Homo sapiens: one gene and its partner. The protein of the gene in region 1 purifies or fractionates together with the protein of each later gene. This does not show direct contact. Each region holds a gene or a part of one and is shown on either strand. Other genes may lie near its edges.

The links. Proteins that work in one complex are often made in the same cells at the same time.
Region 2: the proteins of ENPP7 (region 1) and RHEB purify together in Homo sapiens (affinity purification with mass spectrometry; one large-scale study listed by BioGRID and IntAct). This does not show direct contact.

The regions. Positions count from the first base shown.
Region 1 is NC_000017.11:79,733,943-79,737,442, forward strand, and holds part of ENPP7 (ectonucleotide pyrophosphatase/phosphodiesterase family member 7 precursor), read left to right. Parts: intron 1-1,100; coding exon 1,101-1,727; intron 1,728-3,098; coding exon 3,099-3,318; intron 3,319-3,500. UniProt on the Homo sapiens protein: Choline-specific phosphodiesterase that hydrolyzes sphingomyelin releasing the ceramide and phosphocholine and therefore is involved in sphingomyelin digestion, ceramide formation, and fatty acid (FA) absorption in the gastrointestinal tract.
Region 2 is NC_000007.14:151,513,396-151,516,895, forward strand, and holds part of RHEB (GTP-binding protein Rheb), read right to left. Parts: intron 1-3,500. UniProt on the Homo sapiens protein: Small GTPase that acts as an allosteric activator of the canonical mTORC1 complex, an evolutionarily conserved central nutrient sensor that stimulates anabolic reactions and macromolecule biosynthesis to promote cellular biomass generation and growth.

The DNA of each region.
Region 1 (3,500 bases):
GTCGGAGGGAGAACTGCACCCTTGGGCCCTGCAGCATTGGGGGTGAGGGTCGGACAGGGAAGATCACTGTGACTCAACAAGAAAGCATTTAACAATTAGACGACTTTCTCCCTTTCCACATCCCTGTCACAGCTGAACAGCTAAATTCTAAAGGGCCAAAGACAAAATGAGAGGTGGGTTACAGTATTGACCCAGGAACCCCCCCACCCACCCCCAGTTTGCAATGCTCTGGGGGCTTCCTGGCCCAGAGGCGAGGCTTCCAGTAAACAAAGTCAGTGGAGGTTTCCAAGATGACGCTGGAATAAATGTCAGAGCCCATGCCCACCCCAGAGCCAAGTTATCCACTCAAGCCGGGGTTCCCTCACTCCAGAAGGATCATAGACACACTCAGGGCTCCTTCCACCGGCTGGTGAGCAGGAAGCCAAGGTAGAGACCCTGGCATCACAAGGCTCTTGATCCAATGAAAGAATATCCTGGGGGAGTGGACGGGCAGGTGGGATGGACAGTGATGAGGCAGACACTGCGTATCTGGGAACATTTTTTTTTTTTTTTTGAGACGGAGTCTCGCTCTGTCGCCCAGGCTGGAGTGCAGTGGCGCCATCTCCGCTCACTGCAAGCTCTGCCTCCCGGGTTTACACTATTCTCCTGCCTCAGCCTCCCAAGTAACTGGGACTACAGGCGCCCGCCACCACGCCTGGCTAATTTTTTTGTATTTTCAGTAGAGACAGGGTTTCACCGTGCTAGCCAGGATGGTCTCCATCTCCTGACCTCGGGATCCACCCGCCTTGGCCTCCCAAAGTGCTGGGATTACAGGCATGACCCACTGCGCCCGGCCTCTGGGAACATCTTTATACTGATGTCTTGTTTAGTGCTCAAGTCCAGTGGGCACCTGTTGTTTCCTCTATAAAATCAGGTTTTACCCCCATAGAACATGAGATCAGGGATGTTTTAGAAATTAAAGGCCCCGCAGCTGCAGCTAGGAGCAGGGATGGGTGGGTGGAACAGAGAAGTAGGCACGTGGGGGACAAATGTGTTCACAGGCATGAGACAAGGGGCAGCCCACTGAGGAGTCCTGTCTTTCACGCTGCCTTGTCTGGCAGGGCCTGAGGGCTGGCTCCTTCTTCTACCCGGGCGGGAACGTCACCTACCAAGGGGTGGCTGTGACGCGGAGCCGGAAAGAAGGCATCGCACACAACTACAAAAATGAGACGGAGTGGAGAGCGAACATCGACACAGTGATGGCGTGGTTCACAGAGGAGGACCTGGATCTGGTCACACTCTACTTCGGGGAGCCGGACTCCACGGGCCACAGGTACGGCCCCGAGTCCCCGGAGAGGAGGGAGATGGTGCGGCAGGTGGACCGGACCGTGGGCTACCTCCGGGAGAGCATCGCGCGCAACCACCTCACAGACCGCCTCAACCTGATCATCACATCCGACCACGGCATGACGACCGTGGACAAACGGGCTGGCGACCTGGTTGAATTCCACAAGTTCCCCAACTTCACCTTCCGGGACATCGAGTTTGAGCTCCTGGACTACGGACCAAACGGGATGCTGCTCCCTAAAGAAGGGAGGCTGGAGAAGGTGTACGATGCCCTCAAGGACGCCCACCCCAAGCTCCACGTCTACAAGAAGGAGGCGTTCCCCGAGGCCTTCCACTACGCCAACAACCCCAGGGTCACACCCCTGCTGATGTACAGCGACCTTGGCTACGTCATCCATGGGGTGAGTCGCCTGCTGGAGGCACCACCTCCAGGGGCTCCCTCCCCAGGCTCTGGGTCTTCTTTTTTTTTTTTTGAGACCAGGGTCTTGCTCTGTTGCCCAGGCTGGAGTGCAATGGCAGGATCTCAGCTCACTGCAGCCTTAAACTCCCAGACTCAAGCGATCCTTCCACCTCAGCCTCCTGAGTAGCTGAGACCACAGGTGCACACCACCATGCCTGGCTAATTTTTGTGTGTGTTTTGTTTTGTTTTGTTTCATTTGAGACAGAGTTTCACTCTTGTCATCCAGGCTGGAGGGTAATGGTGCCATCTTGGCTCGCTGCATCCTCCACCTCCTGGGTTCAAGCGATTCTCCTGCCTCAGCCCTCTGAGGCATTACAGGCGCCTGCCACCATGCCTGACTAATTTTTTGTATTTTTAGTGGAGACAGAGTTTCACCATGTTGGCCAGGCTGGTCTCGAACTTCTGGCCTCAGGCGATCCACCCGCCTCAGCCTCCCAAAGTTATGGGATTCAGGTGTGAGCCACTGTGCCCAGCTGATGTTTGTATTTTTTTGTAGAGACAGGGTTTTGCATGTTGGCCAGGCTGGTCTCAAACTCCTGGGCTGAAGCGATCCTCCTGCCTGGGCCTCCCAAAGTGCTGGAATTACAGGGGTGAGCCACTGCGTCTGGCCTCTCCTTCCATCTCCATAGAGGCACTTCCTGTTTCTAGCTGGTCCCCAGTTTGAGGAGTGTCAGCACCGAAGGGACACTTCCTTCACTATGCGGTAGGGTGTGTGCACATCTGTGTGTGCCCTCCACATTCAGGCACCAGGCAGTGGGAGTGTGTGTGCACGTCTGTATCCATCATGACCAGGCACTGTGTGATAGGCGTGTGTGTGTGTGTGTGTGTGTGTGTGTGTGTGTGTGTGCGTCCTACGTGTCCAGGGTAAAGTGTAGAAGTCCAGCCCCAAGGGTGACATGGAAGAGGTAGGAAAGAGTCAGGAGCCCAACCTCCCCTCAGCAGACAGCACAGGGATGCTGAGCCGGAAGCGAAGCACAGATTAGGGAGCAGACATCCCCGGAAAGGAAGTGACCGATGGGAGGCAGCGTTCAACACCGCACAGGCGGCAGGCCCCGAAGCCTGGAGCTGCCCGCTCCACTCCCATTTACTCAGGGTCTGGTCTCCGTTCATTTAACTGGACCTTCCCTGAACTTCACTCTTTAGGGTGACTGATCTTTGGAGGCTCAGAATTCGGGGAAACTGAGTCTTGGAACCCCTCCAGCCCTCACGTTGGTGCTCCTTCCTAAGGGGGTGTTCATAGGGTGGATAGGGTAGGCGGAGAGGGTCTGTTGCTCCCAGCAAGGACCCAGGACCCTTGCCCGCTCCCCGGCAGAGAATTAACGTCCAGTTCAACAATGGGGAGCACGGCTTTGACAACAAGGACATGGACATGAAGACCATCTTCCGCGCTGTGGGCCCTAGCTTCAGGGCGGGCCTGGAGGTGGAGCCCTTTGAGAGCGTCCACGTGTACGAGCTCATGTGCCGGCTGCTGGGCATCGTGCCCGAGGCCAACGATGGGCACCTAGCTACTCTGCTGCCCATGCTGCACACAGGTGAGGGCAGGGTGCCCCAAATCCCCGCCTGCTCTGGTGTGTACACGTGTGCACACGAGGGTGCCTGCATGCCTGTGACCAGGACACCCTTGAGCCCCAAGTGGGGCCACCTCCCCTGGCTTTGGAGAACACCAGAATCTCTCACATTCCCACAACACGTGACCTCTCACGAGCACCTCATG
Region 2 (3,500 bases), on another chromosome or scaffold:
GGAGGAAATTAGAATTTTGGAAAACTTGCACCACTCATAGCGAACAGTGTTCTAAAACTTAAGACTTTGCAGAGATTGGTGGTGATATTAACAAATGTGATTTTTAAAAATGCTTGTATAATAAAATGTGTCAACATGTGGAAGATCTGCGTAACGATGAACAAATATTTTCCAAATGACCAGTAACGCTACAAAACCAGGCATGGTAGAAGATCCATTCCAAGTATAAAGCAGACCTGCGGAGTTGGGCAAATTCATCAATATGATTTCAGATTGCATAGTGTAACTATTCTTTGCAAACTATCACTTATGAAGTTTCGGTATCAAAGAATATTCAACTACCTGAAAAACTATTCAAGTACTCCTTACTTCATTAAAATAACGTTAAGGGAATGAATTCAGGAGCAGAGATGAGAATCCAGCTGTTAAGACATTAAAAGATACCTGCAAAACCGTGAAACACCTTATCAAAATTGCAGTTGCTTTTTTGGCAGAAACTGGCAATCTAGTCCTAAAATTCAATATGGAAATGCAAGGGACTGAGAATACCCAAAAACATCTTCAGAAATAATAAAGTTAGAGGACTCATATGCCCCTATTTAAAAACCAGCTACAAAACTACAGTAATCAAGATCGTATGGTACTGGCAGGACAGACATACAGATCAATGGAATGAGTGAGTTCTTCTATTGACGGTCACTTCATCTCGGACAAGGGAATTCAATGAAGAAAGAACATTATTTTAACAAAAGAAGCTAGGGCAACTTGATATCCACATGCAAAAGTATAAAGTTCTATCCCTCCCTCACATCATATACAAATATTAACCACAAATAGATCACAGATCTAATGTAAGAGTTAACAGGATAAAATATCTAGAAGAAAATATAGTAGTAAATCTATATGACCTTGGATTAGGCAATGGCTTCTAAGATGTGACACCAAAAGCATAAGTGGCAGGAGAAAAATAGATATATCGGCCTTCAAATTAAAAACTTTCTGCTTTGAAGGACACCATCGAGAAGGTAAAAGGACAACCCACAGACAGGAGAAATTATTTGCAAATCCTATGATACCACTTCACACCCAATAGGATGGCTAAAATGAAAAAGGCAGTGTAACAATTGTTGACGAGAATGTGGAGAAAATTAAACCCTCATACATTGCTGATGGGAATATAAAATTGTGCAGCTGTTCTGGAAAAAATCTGACAGTTCTTCAAAATATTAAGCACAGAGTTAACCATAATGACCCAGCAATTCCACTCCTAGGAATGTACCCAAGAGAAATGAAAACATGTCTACATAAAAGCTTGTACAGGAATGTTCAAAACATTATTATTCATAGTAGCCAGAAAGTAGAGCTCCAAGTGGTGTCTCACACCTGTAATCCCAACACTGGGAGACTGAGACCAGAGGATTGCTTGAGGTCAAGAGTTCAAGACCAGCTTGGGCAACAAAGCAAGGTTCCCACCTCTACAAAAAAATAAAAAAACTAGCTGGGTGTGATGGCGCACACCTGCAGTCCTAGCTACTCGGGAAGCTGAGGCAGGAGGATCACTTGAGTCCAGGAGGTTGACACTGCAGTGAGCCATGATAGCTCCACTGCACTCCAGCCTGGGCAACAGAGCAAGACCCTGCCTCAGAAAAGTAAATAAATAAAAAATAATAGCCAAAAAAAAAAAGAAAGAAAAGAAACCACCCACATATCCAATTGACAAATGCATAGAAAAAATGTGGTATACTCACATGACAGAATATTAGTCAGCACTAAACAGGAAGAAGCGACATATGCTACAACATGAACGAACCTTGAAAACATTATACTAAGTAAAAGACGCCAGCCCCAGAAGACCACATATGTATGTTCTTATTTATATGAAATGTCCAGAGTAAGTAAATTCATAGAAACAGAAAGATTAGTGGTTGCCAGGGGCTGACAGGGAAGCAGGATGGAGAGTGACTGCTAATGAGTACAGAGTTTCTTTTTGGGGTGATGAAGTACAGAGAGATATAACCCATATGGACAGCAAAATAACATTTGGCACTGGAAAGCCATAATCAGAAATCTGAATTCTGATTATGCTCTTGTGCAGAACAATGAATGAGACTGAAAAACAGTAATTTCAAGTTTCAATACAAAGTGGGCACTTCAGGACTACCCCCACCCACAAGTATACAACATCAGAATATTAAGCACCTGAATATACAATTTCACATACTGGTAGATGTCATACATAGCAAATATTGTTTTGCCTTTCAATTTTTCAATAAAAAGTGTCAACAAATGATAGGTTAACTTAAAAAATAAACAGTAAGTCAGAATCTGCTGGGAACAACCAAATATTTAATGACATCTTTCCTCATGAAGACTCTAAATACTACCTAAACATTTTGACAAAGTAATAATTTGAGTACTTTTGCTGAATTGCCTTCTTCCAAACCACAAAGCTGTTTCATTTTCCCCCTATGATCTTTCACATGCCTGTGATCCCATCCCTCTTATTAACTGTATGTAAGAGGCTTATATATGACAACCAGCTTTTAATTATGGTCTAATGGTAAACTAGGTTACCAAAGCTCTCTGTACAGGTAAAATCCCAGTGAAAGATGTACCAGGCTGAAGACAGTTTACGTAACACTACCATTTTAAGTTGAGTTACTTCCTATCGCGGGACTACTCCGTTGTGGTAGAAATAACGGAATGTCAGGGAGCTGGTACTTTTGGCCATCACGGCAACAGTTAATACAAAGCACTCCCTGAAAGCCAGACTCCCAGAGTTATAGGTGACGTGTCCTTAAAAGCTTTAACATTGTAAATACCAGGAAAAGTACAGGGGACTGGCAGGGAGAATTGTATAGACTACCTGAGAATTATATTTTACCTATTGGTAGTTCTGACAACACTCAAAAAAAAAGAAAAAAAGAAAACGGAAAGCCAAGTAGTGGGCTGGGTGCAGTGACTCATGCCTGTAATCCCAGCACTTAGGGAGGCCGAGGCAGGTGGATCACGAGGTCAGGAGTTCAAGACCATCCTGGCCAAGATGGTGAAACCCAGTCTCTACTAAAAATACAAAAATTAGCTGGGCGGGGTGGCAGGCGCCTGTTATCCCAGCTACTTGGGAGGCTGAGGCAGGAGAATCGGTTGAACCTGGGCAGCAGAGGTTGCAGTGAGCCCAGATCCCGCCACTGCACTCCAGCCTGGGTGATAGAGTGAGACTCTGTCACAAAAAAAAAAAAAAAAAAAAAAGAAAGCCAACTAGTTAAACAAACATAGCACTTTTTTGTTTTATCTGAAGACAACTTTAAAAATAAAGTTTGTGGCATGACAAATCACAATGACAAGTATCCTACTAGTCAAACTGGCTTAATGTATTTAATCAAGAGAACATTCTAAGAAAGGTGTGGAGGCTTTTTATGTGGCTCTACCCCCAGAATATAGGACAAACAGCTCAGCATCACAAAATACCACAATCTAGAAACACAGGTACTCAAATTTCT